2 separate regions of the Homo sapiens genome follow, and region 2 is linked to region 1. Evidence: fine-mapped expression QTL. Tissue or cell type: whole blood. Region 1 holds a variant in brackets; the other region holds the start of a gene. All regions are shown on one strand. Distances are from middle to middle.

The links. PIP is the estimated chance that this variant, and not a neighbour inherited with it, causes the effect.
Region 2: FIGNL2 starts here. The variant in region 1 is fine-mapped to the expression of FIGNL2 in whole blood (TOPMed, PIP above 0.99). The same link has a PIP of 0.9 or more in blood mononuclear cells.

What each region holds. Positions count from the first base shown.
Region 1 is chr12:51,867,230-51,875,328 of GRCh38, reverse strand. No RefSeq gene overlaps it. Among named protein-coding and RNA genes, the nearest start is that of ANKRD33, 17 kb to the left of the region's middle. RefSeq lists enhancers at 5,021-5,652, 5,653-6,286. The variant C/T (reference allele first, on the strand shown) is at 3,296.
Region 2 is chr12:51,844,866-51,852,964 of GRCh38, reverse strand. It overlaps FIGNL2 (fidgetin like 2), which reads left to right and starts at 4,247. Exons shown (of 2, transcript NM_001384995.1): 1 at 4,247-4,425. FIGNL2-DT (FIGNL2 divergent transcript) reads right to left here and starts at 4,742. Exons shown (of 3, transcript NR_135803.1): 1 at 4,402-4,742; 2 at 2,655-2,704; 3 at 236-271. RefSeq lists enhancers at 4,023-5,014, 5,213-5,921, 6,632-7,340, 7,341-8,051.

The DNA of each region.
Region 1 (8,099 bases):
GGGCAGATGCACAGGAGGGTTGTGGGGTTCCGTTTCTGGCTCAAAGGAAAGGGAGTTATTTCTGTAGTTATTTCTGTATATCAGCTTTAGCCAACCTGGATGGGTACCCCAAGTGTGAGGATTTTTTTTTTTCAGGAGTCTTGCTCCGTTGCCCAGGCTGCAGTGCAGTGGCGCGATCTCGGCTCACTGCAACCTCTGCCTCCCAGGTTCAAGCAATTTTCCTGCCTCAGCCACCTGAGTACCCGGGATTACAGATGTGAGCCACCACACCCGGCTTACTTTTGTATTTTTTTTTTCTTTTTTTTGAGACAGAGTTTCATTCTTGTAGCCCAGGCTGGAGTGCAGTGACGCCATCTTGGCTCACGGCAACCTCTGCCTCCAAGGTTCAAGCGATTCTTTTCTGTCTCAGCCTCCCGAGCAGCTGGGACTATAGGCATGTGCCACCAAACCTGGCTAATTTTTGTATTTTTAGTAGAGACGCGGTTTTACCATGTTGGCTAGGCTGGTCTTGAACTCCTGACCTCGGGTGATCCGCCCATCTCAGCCTCCCAAAGTGCTGTGATTACAGGTGTGAGCCACAGCACATGGCCAAGTGTGAGGATTCTTCTACCTTCTACCTGCATTGATGCCCTGTCTTGAAGTGCCCTGTCCAGGCCTCCCTCCTCAAGAGGACTCAATAGGGATCCCTTCCCAGCCCCTGCCAAGTTCCCCAGGCCTGGTCTTGACCCTCTCTGTGTATGCCTTTGTTGATAGAAATGATTGTGGTAGTGGGGCATGGAGTTGTTGGTTAATGTGTAAAATAATGGATAGCTCCTGGATGACACAGGTACACTTCAGCCAGGGCCTTCTGCAGTCTCAGGCTGGTGGTCTTAAGGATTAAAAGCAAAGGCCCTTTATGGATTAACCTCCTTTGGACCTCTCAGCCGCTGGGGTCTGACAGGAGTTCACAAGGATGTTCCTTTGCCTGCCGCTCCTATTTCTCAATCACTCTCTTCAGTGTCTTCTGCTGGTACTCCTCTTTCTGTCTGCCTGTCATCCCCTTTTCTTCAGCTTGATCTTTCTCATCTCGCCATCTGGCTCTTTCCATCTCTCTCTCCCTCTGATGCTCTCTCTTAAGCCCTGATAACATACACTGCTTGCTCCCTAACTTGCTCTCTGACTGCCGTGCGTAATCTCCAGCCATCTAATCCTTTGGGCTGGATTTTTGCCCAGAGTCTTGACTTGCGGAATTCAATCAGAAGAGAAGGTGGTGGGGCGGGGGGCGGGGGGGCGGTGCAGGGGCAAATCTACAGAGAAGGAACTCAGGAAACTTTTGAGTCTGGTTTGGGAACAAAATACTGTGTCATCTCATCCCTTTCTTTTCTTCTGGGATCTTTTTCCAGCAGAAGCCCCTCTCCTCCCAGCCTCCAGGCTTGGTGGCAGTTACAGCTGGAGCCGGCAGTCAGTGGGGAAATGGCCCAGCCCAGCTGAAGGACTAGGTAGATGCAGGATGGGACCCAGCAGAGCAGGGCAGAGAATGGAGGAGGTGGCCTCTGACCCCAGCTCTGGCCCTTTCTAGGGGTCCTGTGTGACCTGCCATAGGTCATGCCCCCTACTCCCGAATCATGATCTGCATCACAAAGCCCACAGCTTGTAACTCAGAGCCAGCCAGGAAGGTCTGGGATTGATTTAGGGTCCACTCTGACCAGCTCACCCTCACTGGACTATGACCCCTTGGGTGGGGGTGAGGACAAGGGTCATGGGTGAAGTTCAGGCAGGGGTGTCCTGACCACCACTACAGCATACCTGTTGCAAATCCTTCTGCACTCCTAGTGGACTGGAGGGGAGGCCTGGGCACATGAGTTCAAGGTTCTCGCTAAATAACCCATTCCCTCTGGCACAGCTCAGGGCCACGGTGAGGGAGCCACGGTCATTGCCTAGTGGGCGTTCAGGGACAGCATTCTCAGGAATCAGGCTCAAGGTGTCTTACACAGCAGAGAGAGCTTCATTGCCCACCAAAAGGGCAGTCAGTTAAGTCCTACGTAAGCCCTTCCACCCATCACCACCAACCGCAGTTACACTGAGCTGCTCAGAGCCAGTGTACATTTTTGTTTACAAAAATTTTTACATTTATGTTTAGCCTGATATATTTCATGTTGTCAGTTTCCATTCATCCACCATTCCCTTCTGGAGATATCACTGAAGAATATTCTCTACTCTGAGTATTTCACTTTTTTGACCGTCATCCACAGTAAATACATTTACTTCTGGACCCAGGACACATGAATGCACATGTAACTACAAGCAGCGTTTCCTGAAACTGTAAAGCACTGTTATGTTTTCTACTCTATTCTGTTTTGTTGTAAGGAAAAAAAAAGTTTTTAAAATGATTCCGTCAACAACTAGTGGGCCGGCACTTAGAGTTTCCAGTAGATAACCTCTTACATCTTTACACCTTCGCAAGTCTTTAAAGCCCATCTTTCAAACACAGAATCCATATAATCTTCATAAAAGCCAGTGAGGAAGATAAGGCAGGGTTTTTCATTGACCCATCTTACAGATGAGAAAACAGAGACTCTGTGAGATCTGCTGAAGATCACCCAGCTGGTGTGTGGCAGGGATGGGATTCTGAGTCAGGTCTTTTGTACACCTGTTCATGGTGCCCTAATACCCCTAATACCCCGTCGCTTCTCTCTTTCCCTGTCCTCTGACAGCCTCCTGATTGAGGTCATTGTCTGTTTCCAGTCCGAAGGCCATCTCCTTCCATGGGGAAGATGGAGAGACACGGCAGCTGAGTAATTTTGTTTCCCGTCATCTGTTAAACACCGCACCATCTGTCAATTCCACCCTCAGCCTCCCACCCACTACCCAGAGGCCAGCGTGGGGGAGGAGGCCATTTTCTTAGAGTCTGAGCCTTCAGGCCCACTCCCACAAAAAGACTCAGAGTACCCACAAAAAGCTCATTTTTCAGCTCAGAACCAACAGCTGTGGACTAGAATTACAGGGGGCAGCACAGGAACAAGATTAAGGACTTTCTGAGGTCAGAGGTATAACGCAAGGTGAGTCACCCCTCCCTGACCACCAGGTCTTGTCTTCATGCCCCCCGCAGCTCCACCCCCCATCTTGCTGAGGATCCAGAGCTGTGAGGAAGGTGAGCTGATCCCAGCAGCAGGAGCCCTGCAAGCCGCTTCAAGTGCGGCAAAGCGAGTCCATCTTACAGGGGCCTGGGCAGATTTATGGGGCCTTGGGTGTGGCTGGCTGTTGCTCAGCTTCCGCCTTTCTAATTCTCCCGTCTCCTCCATCACCCCGCCCCCTC[C/T]TCAAGAAGGCCTTTGTGCAGGACAATGAGGAATCTATAAATTCCGGGGGACAGGGATGGGGGGAGGGGAACACTGGTCACTTCAGCTCCCCCCGTCCACCCTGGGGGCCCTGCATAGATAGCAAGGAGGGGCTTCCATGGAGTGGCCCCATCTTGTCTGATTCACACTGGAGCCCAGAGACAGAAGTGGGCCAAGCCCCACCACTGGCTTTCACAGATGAAGAAACTGAGGCTCAGAGGCAGAGGGCGTCTCCAGTCCCTGCTTCATTCACTCTGCCTCTCACTCATGTATTCATTCTCCTCCTCTTACCTATGCCCTGGTCCTTCCCTCACGCAGGCATTCACTCCACAAATACCTATGGAGTTCTAGATGAGCACCAGGCCAGGTACAGAGGGGGCAATGGTTGGTGAGACCCAGCCCCTCCACCAGCCCCCCACTCTGGAGGGTCATACAGCAGTGAGCTATGGTTCCAGAAGAGCCAAAGCATAGCTCCAGCCCCAGTTTTCCCGGCTGGCAACCTGCACCCTTTCATCAGCAAGCCCTACACGGCTTTCATGAGCATTTTGGAGTTTGATCCTGGTGGGGTCCCTGGGAGACAGGTATTATGTACGCCTCCCCCACCATTTTGCTAATGTGGTCTCAAGAGGGTAAACGGTTGCCCTCTGGTGGGCAAGATCACCCCTCTGGTGGGTAGCAGAACTGAACCAGGAACCACCCTCCGCACCACTCCAAGTGCTGTGGGGACTCAGAATATGGGCGTGGGCTGAGGCTCAACTTCCTCTTCTACCACTTGCCCAGCTGGCCCTGTGCCTGACCCCCATGCTGAGCTTTCCCTGGTGTTCTTCCCATCTTCCCACAGTAGTTATTAAATGTCCCAGGCTCACCCTGATTTCTTTACCCCACTCATCTATCTGTTGGATAGTAATAATGAATTCAATGCTTATGCTGCCTGTGTGTTGTGGTGTGGATCTGTGTGTGTGGTATATCTACTTGTAAACTGAGGCTATTAGTGTCTACTTCACAGGAGGATGGAATGAGTTAAATTAAACTAAACTATGTAAAGGACTTAGAATGATGTCTGGCACAGTCAGCTGATTAGCTGTCAGCCAAGATTATTGTTATAGTAAGCCATGGGTCTGCCCATGTGTGCAAAGCATCTAGGTGGGTACCAGGTGAGTACAGGTGTTTGTAGCTGGCCCCACCCAGAGAGAAGCCCTCTCGGAGGTGACCAGATGAACTAGCATCCAGTTTGGTCCCAGGGACTCCTTTCCTGGAATGTATGGAGCATGTACTGAGTGCTTCTTGGTTTGCACCAGGCATTGTGCTAGAGAACAAGAAAGACAAGGTCCCCGCGTTCATGAAGCTGACATTCTGGTAAGTGAAACAGACCACAAACCAAGTGAATAAGAAAGATAATTACAGAATGTGGTGAGTTCAGTGGAAGAAATATATAAGGTTAAGTGACAGACTGGATCAGGCAGATGGGGCTGCTTTATTATTGTGGTCAGGGATGATGGGAAGGTGACGTTCCTGGGAAGGATCTGGGCAGAGCGATCCAGGAAAAGCACCAGCAAAGCCAAGGCCAGAGGTGGGGGAAAGCTTATCAAGTTCAATGAACAGAAAGGCAGCCAGTGTAAGCAGTGTCTGGGCAGTGGGGAGAAGGATAGGAAGAGAGGTCTGTCTGTGTAGGTAGGGGCTGGGGGAAAAGGTTTGGGCTTCCTTTGCAGGGAAGCTGTGGGTGGCTGTTAAGCGAGGAATCACATGCCCTGGTGTTTTCCTGATTTGTATTTTTAAAGGTCTCTTTGCCTGCAGTGTGAACTGATTGTTGGGGACCCTGGGAGAGCGGACAGGAGTCTTTTCGATTGTGCAGGGAAGTAACAGGAGCTTGGGCAGTTGAGTGGGGGCAGGGGCAGGGGCTGTTTTAGGAACTATGTTAGAGACAGAGGAACAAGATTCAGGGTGAGGGTGGGAGAGGAATTCAAGAAGAAAGAAAGGCCCAGGGAGCCCAGATGATCCAGTTGTTTCTACTCTGGGCCAGGAGAGTCCCCCTGTCCTCTTTAGCCCTGGCCCTGACCCACAGGGGCCAACCCTAGCCATTTGCTCTCCCACTGTGTCTACCCTCAGCAGCCCTAAATCAAGGGCAGGCCAGGCTGGCTCATCCGAGACCTTTGTGAGAAACGGTGCCCCCTGCCCTCCTTCAGAACGAGTCAGCACCTGCCAAGGCCGAGCTTGGAATCCCACTCACCCACAACCACGCCTCCCACCTTGTATAGGTCACAACCTGCACAACCGTACAGCTCCCCTCTCCCTAGCCTGGGCCACTGGCTCGACCTGAAAATCTTCGGAACTTTGAGGACCTAAAGGCCCGGAGCTGGTTGCGGCCGGCCCTGGCCTGAAACAACTCTGGGGGTGGGGGCGGCCGGAGACTCGGCCTTTCCAAAGGGAATCTCTCAGCCCTCGTCCCGGGAGAAGGAGGTGTCTCCACCGGGCCCTCACATCACTCTCCCCTAGAAGCTGGGATGCCCGCGCCCCGGCGGCCAGAGCCGCCCCTCCCGGACCCCCTCCCCGCCGGTTCCCGGCCGGGGAGGCCGCCGCCCCTCCCGCAGGAGCGAGCTGCCGAGCCGATCTTCCGGCCCCAGGCTACGGCGGGGGAGGGTCCGAGCGGTAATTGCTGCCATCTGCTCCCTCCTCCCTCCTCTTCCCCCACAGCCTGGGGGAGGCTCCGAGGCTCGCGCGCTGGCTCCGCGCCCCCGCGTCCGAACGTCCCCCTTTCACGCGCAGCCCTGGCCACCGAGGGGCGGGAGCTCCAGGTGGCCCGCGAGCCCCCCTGGGGCGAGTGCGGGGGTGAACCGAGAGCACCCACCAGCATCTCTTTGCTGGAGGGCGGGCCCTAGTCGGAGCCACACAGCATTGCGCGACAGAATCCCACCGCTGGGGTTCTGCTCCTCGTGGAGCCAGGCCTTGGGAAGCACGGGGGTGTCCCTCGGCCACTCGCTCGGCTGGCGTGCACACGGGTGGATAGTTCACGCCCGCCTCGGGATACGGACGTGTGGATCTGGATTTCGGACCTGGACAGACGCGTCCGGGGTGTGTGTAGGAGGGAGGAGCAGAGCCGAGGCCCGAGGCTGAAGCCGGTGGGGAGGAGGCAGGACTCTGCTCTTCGGGCCCGGCGGGCTGGAGTTATCGTCGGCTGGGGAACCTCGGGCAGCGCTCAGAGCCGTGTCCTCATCTGTTAAATGGGGACCCAGTACCTGCTTCTTGGGTGCATCCAGAGGATTTGATTCCACAGTCTGGGAAGCAACACCTGCGGGTGGGAGAATGGTTAGGCCAGGAAGAGGGAGTGTGGGCTGGGGATGGGAGGTTGGTATCAAGGCCATTTCCTGGGGTCTCCAGCAGCATGGGCTTCAGAGGGTGAAGATGTCTGATGACAGTGCTGGGGGGCATTGGAGGAGTTCGGGAATGTTTATGGATCACCCCCAGGCTATCAGAGTCTCAAATAATCTGTCGCATTTTTCTCATAAGAACACTTTTGCCTAGCACCCTGAGTTCTGATGTTTTGCTCCTCTTTTTTTCTTCTGGATTTCTGCTCACTAGAATACTCACAGGGTAGCAGAGAGCACCTGACTGCCCTGGTACAGGAAGCCACTCACCCCGGTCCGCTGGTGACACAGACAGCCGTGCTGCCCAGGACCCAGAAAACCTCACCTTGTGGCACAGAAGGTGCCCGCTGCCTCCCTCTCTTGTAGCCTTGCTGACTCCGACAAACCTGTGTTTGTCTCAGAGGCCAGCTCCTGCAGGACTGAACTACGCCTCCTTCCCCTAACCGTCACTGCCACCAGTCCGATGGCCTGACTCCTCAGCACAGTGAGCCTTGGGGTGCCGAGAGCAGGCCTCCTCAAAACCCTGGAGGGGCTGTCACTATAGGGAGGGGATACATTGTGAGAATTCTGGAATCACAGGGACCATTGGACAACCTGAGGGTAACTGACTTCTGCAGGGGTCAGGAGGATGCCCCAGAGTCAGTGGCTTCTGGGCTGGGGTTGGAGGGAGGAATAAAATAAAAGTTCACCAGGGCCGGAGGCTCGGCCCCAGGGAGGATTATTTGAGGCCTGAAGTTCTGGACCAGCCCAGGCAACACAGTGAGATACCATCTCTGAAAAAAAAAAATTAAAATATTAGCCAGCTGTGGTGGTACGTGTCTGTAGTCCTACCTACTCTGGAGGCTGAGGCAGAAAGATTGCTTGAGCCCAGGAGTTGGAAGCTGCAGTGAGCTATGATTGTGCCACTGCACTCCAGCCTGGGTGACAGACTGAGACTCCATCTCTAAAAAAGTTTAAAAGTTCACCAGAGAAGGAAGAGAAGTGGTGCTCCAGGAAGAAGGAGCAGTGTGTGCAAAGATGGGAGTGTGAAAGTCCAGCTGCAGCCTGGGGAAGCATGGCAAGTGTGATGTACCTGCAGGAAGAGTGTTGGAGGGGAGGAGTTGACTGGGATATGGAGGGGAACCATGTGTGAAGGGAGTCTGAAGGGACACAAATACCAGGTCAAGGAATTTTGACTTGAGTTTGTTATAACAAATTGAAGTATCTGCAGGAAGGGGTAGACAGGAACAAAAATGGCCAAACACATGAAGCTGACAAGAAGTAAAATAAGAAGGCAAGGGCCAGCCTAAGTGATAAAAAGGCCATTCACTCATCTGGGCCTCAGACCTGGGAGACAATAGGGATTGGTGAGGTTTCCAGAATTCCCTCAATGGTGCATAGGTAAGCCCCAGGGATACCTTGTAAAGGCCACAGTTGTTACTCA
Region 2 (8,099 bases), 22 kb after region 1:
TAGTGCTGGATGATTTAAGTACAACCAGATGTGCTGGGAATCTCCTGTCAGGCTCAGGCCCAGAGAGGGCAGAGTGGGGGTGGAGAGACCTCTGGGCCACTTGGATTTGCAGTTCCCTATTTTGCCCTGGGTCTGTAAACTTTAGGGAGCGAAGAAGCCCAGTAGGATTCCAGAGGTTCCAGATGGGCTTGCATGTTAGAGGGCGGATCGTGCAGGACTTGGAGGAGGCTTCTGCCTTTGGACAGGATGGAGTGGGCTCAACCCCTGGAACCTAGGGGAAAAAAAAGATTGGAAGTGCTCTGCTAGGATGCGGGACAGATAGGGAAGACTTTACAGAGAAGGGCATACCTGAGTTGGGTTCTGAAGGATGAATAGGAGCTCATCAGGCAGAGTAGGGAAATGAGATTCCAGGCAGAAAGATTCTGAGGTATTAAAAAGGTATGCATGTTTAGTGGGAGTTTCTGTGTGACTGTAAGGTACATGGTGGGATCAATTTGGGGTGCTGGCTGAAGAGCTATGCTGCAGGATGGTGCAGGATGTGCTTCTGCTCAAAGAACAAACAGCAGGGCCATGTGTGGGGTAACGATTTTGGAAGCGAGGTATCAGCGTCCCCAAGTGTTGGGCCCCAAGGAGTTAGCGGAGACTGATAGCCACCCAGCTCCTCCTCCCAAGTCTGAGCTGCATAGAGGGAGGAACATGTTTTCTAGTTTGCCTACAGGCTTTCGAGGGCTCCTAGGCTGGATGTGGGGTGGGGATAGGATCCAGACTAGACACAGCTTGTAGCACAGTGGGAAGGCAAAGCTGGTATACGTTCATGAAGAGTAAGAGTTTTTGGGGTGGTTTGATCAGGGTTGGGGAGGCACTGGGAACTGGGCCTTGATGGGCAAAGAGCAAGAATGAGAAGGGCTAGAGTTTCCATTTGTGGGGACAGCAGCCTGAGTCCCGGGCAAGTGTGGTTGGGGGGAAGCCCAGCTGGGTGTGGTGCCCTCTGGGCACGCACCCCAATCCCCAAGCCAGGACACATTTCCTTCCTTTCCTGCTCATAATGACTCCTGAGTGGCCAGTCCAGAGGACCACAAAGAGGCCTCCCCGCCCTTTCCTCTTCCTCTCTTCCATTTCTTTCTCCCTTCCTCCCCCCACCCCATCCTTCCCCCAACCCGGGGCCCTTTTCTTTCCTTCCTCCTCACCCTACTTGCTCCTCCCGCCCTCTCTCTCTAGCTTTTACTTCCTCCCTCTAACTCTCCCCCCTCCCTCCAAAATCCTTTGAGCTGATTCTCCCTAGACCCACGGAGTTATTTTTCTTCTTAATGTTTTTAGAAAGCCCTTGTTGCAGGTCTCTGGACCAGGAAGGTCACACACTCCCACACTTCTGCTGCACACCCACATGCATGCGCCCGCAGCAGGTGCCTGCACTCAGCCACACAACCAAGCATAGCACCTGTCTCCCCTGGGGGCAGGATGGGGGTGGGATTCTCCACCTTGGGTGTGATACTAGCAAAAGATCTGGGAAAGAATGGAGGGCCCTCTGCAGAAGCCACACATTACCACCATCATTACCACTATTATTATCCAATCCATTGCCAGGCACTTGACCTGCCTGGGGATGATCACAGCCACCTCAGCAGGGGCTCTCAGGGCACAGATCCCTTGACTGGGGACAGCCAGGAGTGAGGTCACCCCAGAGTCCTCAGAGATCAGTCTCTCGGGCCCTGCCCAAGAGGGCAGGAGGTAGAGATGTGATGAACAGAGTATTTGTCAGCCCAGGAGGCTGGATGATGTATTAACAGGACTTTAATGAGCTCTGGGAGGGGGAGCCACACTTCATCGCCCTGAGCACTGGTGCAGGGTGGGAGGTGGAGGGGTGAAATGATCAACCTCACCCCCACCTGCTAACTAAACCTCTTAATATCACCCACAGCAGTCCGCCCATTGGAAACAACTCAGTACTGCCAAGCTGCTGGTCTTGCCCCTGGAGTCCAGCGAAGGCCTTATCCAGCAGGCTGGTGTCTTCCACTATCTCACTAGCAAGGCCTTCCTTAGCTTTAAGCTTGTCCTTCCTTTACTCCCGGACTCCTAGAGGATGAAGGAGAACCGGATCCCCGCTCCAGGGGAGCGCATGATCAATTCCTTCCTTCACACTGAGCGCCTCAGTCCAACCCCACTCCTGTCATCCCCCCTTCCCTGGAGCATGGTGGAGCAGGATCCCCATTGGCAATGCCAGACTTGGCTTCCTGGCACTAATCCTGCTGGCTGAGGCACCCAGCTCATAAGGATATTAGTCTTTCCCTTAGTTCCTGTCTCTGGCTGTCAGGGAACCTGACAGGTAGGGGTGGAAAAAGTGCAGTGGATTCTAGATCCAGCTTTGCTGTGTGACCCCAAGTGTGTCACTTCTCCTCTCTGGGCCTCCAGTGCTCCAACAATAAGGAAATAGCCAAGGAGTTCCTTCCAGCTGGTATCCTGGGATTGTTCCTCCAGCAAGGGTTCCAGTCTCCTAGCATGGTGGTTGTGGCTCCCTTCATCCTGCCTGATTCTGAAGCCAGGGGCTACTCTAGCACTCTGAGCCTTGACACGTCCCTCCTCCTGTGCCAGGGCAGAGCCCTGGGGGTGGGGAGTGGCAAGGAAGAGATAATTCTGGAGGTGGAAAAGACACTGACCTTGGCAAGTTCCAGAACCTGCGTGGGTGCCGGTTGCTTCCAAATGTGGGCTGGAAAAGAAGTGGGAGCTACTGAGGCCCTCCCCTTCTGTTTCCCTGAGTGGCACCTAAAGGAGTGCCCCAGACCTGTCAGACCCCAGAGCCTGCAGGGGAATCTGCATTAGAAGAAGGGAGGGGGTAGTGTTTGGAGTTCTACAGGCTAGTGGGTGAGGGCCAATCTTGCCCTACTGACACTCAGGCTAGGCAGCCACTCAAAAGGGAAACAAGCTCTCAGGAGAGAGGACCCTTAAGCACTGCCCTTGGGTGGAAACAGGATTGCCTTGGGACATCTGGAGGCTCAACAGCAGGAAGGTTCTCTGGACCCTCCATCATCAGCACAGCCCTCCTCCTACCTTCTCCTGGGGCAAAGCCGGTTCCTGGCCTTTATCCCTGATGAAGCCTTGAGTGTGTGTGTGTCGGGCAGAATTCTGTCTACCCTTCGACTGGGAGCTCCAGGAAGACAGGGCTGTGCCTCTTGGACTCTCTTGGGTATCCCTGGTGCACAGTCCAATGTTTGGCACAAAGTTAACACTCAGTATGTATCTATTGAACGGATGTCTTTGGACACTCTCAGTGGACTAGAGGTCTGGGATTCATCCCTCATCTTTTCTTCCTGCCAGTCATCCTGCTTGGCCCAGTGTGACTGCCGCCTTCTGGGCAAGCCCTCCAGTGGAGCCCTCTGTTTAGATCTCACACCCTACACTCCGCTGCCCCCGTCCAGTGCTCGCCCTCCTCCCCCGCAGCCACCCGCTCCCGGAGTGGCATCAGCGCAGAGCCGCGGCCTTGCCTGGCGGTGCGTCCTGCCCTCTGCAGCCCGGGAGGGCAGGCGCAGCAGAGTCCCGCGCGCAGTGGGTTCTCAGCTCACCTGGGGGCGGAGGAAGTGAGCAAGAGTCCTCCAGACTGGGGCCAGGGGGCCAAGGCAGTCCTGGGAAAGGGGGTCTGGGGCGGCCCGCGGACGGGGCGGGCCCAGGCCGGCTGCCTTCCCCTTTGCCCTTCGACCCAGGAAGCCGCCCACATCCAGCGGACACGCTCGACGGGCTGGGCTGCTCAGTCCCGGCCTCGGCCCCGTCCCCATGCCGTCCCCCACCCCTACCCGCCGGCCCGACCCCCACCCCAACCCCAGCTTCCCGCTCCGACGGCCGGGAGAGGCGGGGCGGACGGGTCTGAGAGTGGCGAAGGACACTCTCCACACCGAGGGTCACTTGCTCTTTTTTCCCCTCTGTGGCTAATTTATTTTAGAGCCAGGGGCGGGAGGGGGCGGGGCCAGCCGGGAGGGTGGCAAGGAGGGGCTGGGCGAGCCCAGGGGAGGTGGGGGCGGGGCGGGGGCGAGGTGGGGGAGGGCGGGGAAGAAGCCGGGGGTGGAGGGGCCAGAGAAGGGGCGGGAGCTGGGGGAAGAGAGGGGCACTAGGAGAGGGAGGAGCAGGGAAAGGGGAGGGGAGGGAGGGCCTGCGAGGGAGGGCCCTGGGGGCGGGCGAGGGGAGGCGGGGGTGGGGGTGGGGGTCTTTCCTGCGGGGGGAGCCGGGGCCGCCCCTTGTCCGGCCACCCCCACTGCCCAGTCCCGCTCCCGCCCGCGGCGGCCGCAGCAGCCGCAGCAGCAGCGGCTCCAGGATGGTGAGCGCCACTGCCCCCCAGCCCAGGCCTGTCGCCCCCGGCCCGCGCCGCCGCCCCGGTCCCCGGGCCGGACGCGCCCCCAGGCCGCGCACACTCACCTAGGACCCGGCCGTGATGCCGAGGTACGGGGCCGCGGGCGGGCCGGGATGGGGCGGGGGGAGGTGACCGTTCGGTCAGGGTGTCCGGAGCTTTGTCCGCCGGCCCGGGGCCGGAGAGGGCCGAGAGGGCGGGGGCTGCTAGTCGCGGGGTTCAGCTCGGCGGGGGTCGGAGGGCAGGGCCGGCGAGAGACCCTAGCGGGTACGTGGGAGCCGAGGGTCACTTCTCGGGGGGAGGGGGCGGGCAGAGCAGGGGATAGCCGCCCGGCCGCCGACGGGCACCCGTCTCGCAGCCCCCTCTGGTGCGGGGGCTGCAGCGAAAGCGAGCAGCCGGCTCGGGGGCGTCTGCTGGCCTGGGGGTGGGGAGCCAAGGTTTGCGGGTTCGGGTCCCAGAAGGATCCAGCGTCCGGAGCCCGAGGGCCGGCCCGCAGGCCCCTCCCACTCCGTCAGGTCTTTGTCCAGCGGCCCCTGTGTGTGTGTGTGGGAGGGGTGGGGGCTGGGTTACTGGCCCGGAGATTCCCCAGCATGGTGACGGGGCAGTGACAGGAGGCCGAGGCTACTTAGGGTCCCCGCGCCCCTAACACCCACCCTCTTCATGTCTTCTCCTCTGGCCCGGGAGAACAGAGCCCGCGTCTCAGAGTCAGGGGGTTGTAGGAGGCTGTACTCACCTTCACCCTGGGGCTACAGGCAACAAGGGGGACCCCCGGAGCGCCCAGCTCTCCAGAGAGGGCCCCTCAAACTTCCCCACCGCAAGAGCCCTCTCCTGTTCTACACAGAGATTCGCATGCTAGCAACCCCCCCGCCGCTGCAGAGGGTCCTTCGCAGATTGCTGAGCACCCTGTAGGTGATCAGCAAATGCTGGTGCCCTTCCCCAGCCCCGCTGGTCCCCCTGCCCCCGCCAGAGGAGGAGGCCTGGGAAGGGGTCTGCGCGGGGCAGAGAGCGCGCGGCCTGGACCCTGCGCCCAGCGGCGGCCCGGAGCGCAGGGGTGGGTGGACGGGTGGGTGGGCTGTTAAAGGGACGGTCACTAAATCAGGATTAGGCCGTAGGGCTGTCAGGCTGCCGGCCCTGTCTCCATGGATACCTAATTTGGAGGAGAATAGAGGACTGAAGAATGTTTGTGTTGTCCGCACGGGCTGTGGCGGCGGAGCGGTCTCCTGCTTTCCGCCCGGCAGCGAGGAGTGGGGACCCGGTTCCAGCCCAACTCTGGGCTTACGGCGCAGGTGGGCTTCCCGGTTCCTGGGCCGTGGGGCCTCCCCTGTGGAGCCGCCCAGTCTCTGGAGTGGGCTGGGCCCGCAGATGCCACGGTGCGAAACCCTCTGACCCTGCAGAGGGAGTCCCAGACCCTCCCGGAGCCTACCCCGAAATCCCATAGCATCCTCCTAAAGCCTCCCCGAGCCTCTCAGTCCGGAACCGACGCCATTCCCCGCTGTGCCTGAGCCCCCAAGGACGGGCGCGCCGGGCTGCCCGGTGCTGTGGTGCCGCCGCCACCCAGCTGTGGGACGCGGGTACCGGGCGGCCGCGCGAGCTGCGGGCAGGGGGCGGGGCGGGACTTCCTGGGGTGGGCGAGGAAAGGGGCGGGGCTTGCTGGGGTGGCTGGGCTGGACGGGTGACAGGCCTCGTAAATCCCCTTTCCCATGTTTAACACCATTTCATTTCTTTCCACTTGATTCCATTGGCATCCAAGGCAGACGGGAGCGACCCTCGTGTCCTCGCTGTAATATCTTCTGGGCGAAGCCCTTTTGGGCCAAAGGGAATTAGGCTGTGTGGGGCAGAGGAGTTGCTCCTGGGGAGGCCTAGAGGACCCGCATTCCTCGGGGGGATTCCTGTTGCCCCCACCCCCGCCCCAGAAGAAGAAACAGAAGGGGCTGAGAGACACAGAAATGAGTTTGGCTTCGGAGGCCCTGCCCGATTCTCTGGCCGTGGTATGGCTGAGGGCTGGGCTGAGGATCCCGTAACTGTCAATTCCAGTACCAGCCTGGGCGAAGGCTGGGGAGAGCCACCCAGACTGAGTGTGGCGTCGCAGAGCCCTTTCCTGCCTTTCTTCTGCTCACCCATGGCCACAGCTTTTTATGGATCAGGACTCCCCTCCCTGCCCTGCCTGGGCCGCAGCTTTATTGCTGAGATCTAGGGCTCTCTCCACGCAATTTCACGCCTCTCTGCCTTTGCTCCCGCTGTTCCTCCAGCCAAATGCCTTCCTCATTGTCCCTGTCTTTCCACAACCTCCTTATTCTTCAGGGCCCAACTCGGATGCGCACCTCCTCCGCATCACCTCCCCAGCCCCGAGCTTCTGTCACTTGCTCCTCCCTCCGTGGCCTGCACCTGTGCTCCCTTCCGCCTTTGTGGCGGGGTCCACTCAGGGCTTTGACTGAAATGGAGCATGTACTCCCTGGCCCTGCCCCCAGTGGGCTTGCCACAGGGCTTGACACCTTGTGGGTGCTCCATAAATATTGGTTGGCTGAATAAAAGGGGTTTTGTAAGGGCCTTTAGCCAGGCAGTCTGCATAGCATGGAATCTGGCCACCTTCAGGTAAACAGCTCTGTGCTCTTGGGTGGTGGAGACCCCTGGGTGGGGCTCCTCCTCTCCCTTTCCCTTATTTGCCTCCTTCTCCTCCCCATGACCCTACCCCACCCCCCCAAGTCCGGGGAGGACTTTGCCCCTTCCCTTCCCCACAGACCAGCATTCTTTCCCTGCCATTATCATTCTGTTAAACAGAGAGGCCAGTCAGGATCCATATGGATCACATTAACAATTGCTTATTATCTGGGCCAGGACTCCCCCGACTCTCCCCCCAAGCTCCGACTGCTGCCATTGCTGGACCCTTAGGAGCCCTGCCTTCCCCTCCCCCTGCCGTCGGTCAGCCAGGGAGGGCAAGAGACAGGCTGGTCTCCCTCACCTTCCCTGTGCCTTCTAGCAGAACTTTGCCTCTCCTGGACTTGGCGGTTATCGACTCCTTTACCCGATTTAATGAAAACCAGGTTCCTGGAAGGAGCATGGCTCTGCAAAGCTCCAGGGCTGCAGCAGGGAGATGTGGACTCCAGGCCCCAGTGCCCCTGTGCTCTGCAGCCCTGAGACCCCCTTCAGGGGACAGAGACTGTGGGGGGGGGGCGGTGAGCCACAAGAGGTCAAGTATGGGGTGCTGGCATCTGCTACCTTAGCCTTGGGCTGGTCCTGCCCCCTTTTGGGAGCTGGCTGTCTGGTGAGGGAGATCAGGGCAGAGGGACCCTGCCAGGCTCTGTGGTGTTGGGCTCCCAGCCTTTCCCTGCAGTCAAAGAAGCAAGAAATCTGTTAGAGCTTCCCAGAGCAGCCACTGAATTGGCCTTGAAGGATGGGGAGTGTACTTCACGTTTAAACCCATATATAACCCAGGAATACTAGGGCATGGAAGGAGCCTCCAAGATTACCCATTCTGGGTATCCATAACTTTTTTTGATTTACAGAGCCCTTGGAGACACTGATGAAAGCCATCCCCAGAAAAATGCACTTCCGTTAATTGACACCAGACTTTGCATTCTGCTTTAGAGGATTCTTGGATCCCCTGAAGCCCATGGGGACCTTATGTCAAGAAACCCTCACCCCAGTCCATCCCTCTCTGATGTGCTGAGGACAGAGTCATGCCTGCAGCCTGGGTTTCCTGACCTCCCCACTCAGTGCTCACTCCATGGCCATATTACTTGCAGTAGGACCGCCAGAACCAAGCGAC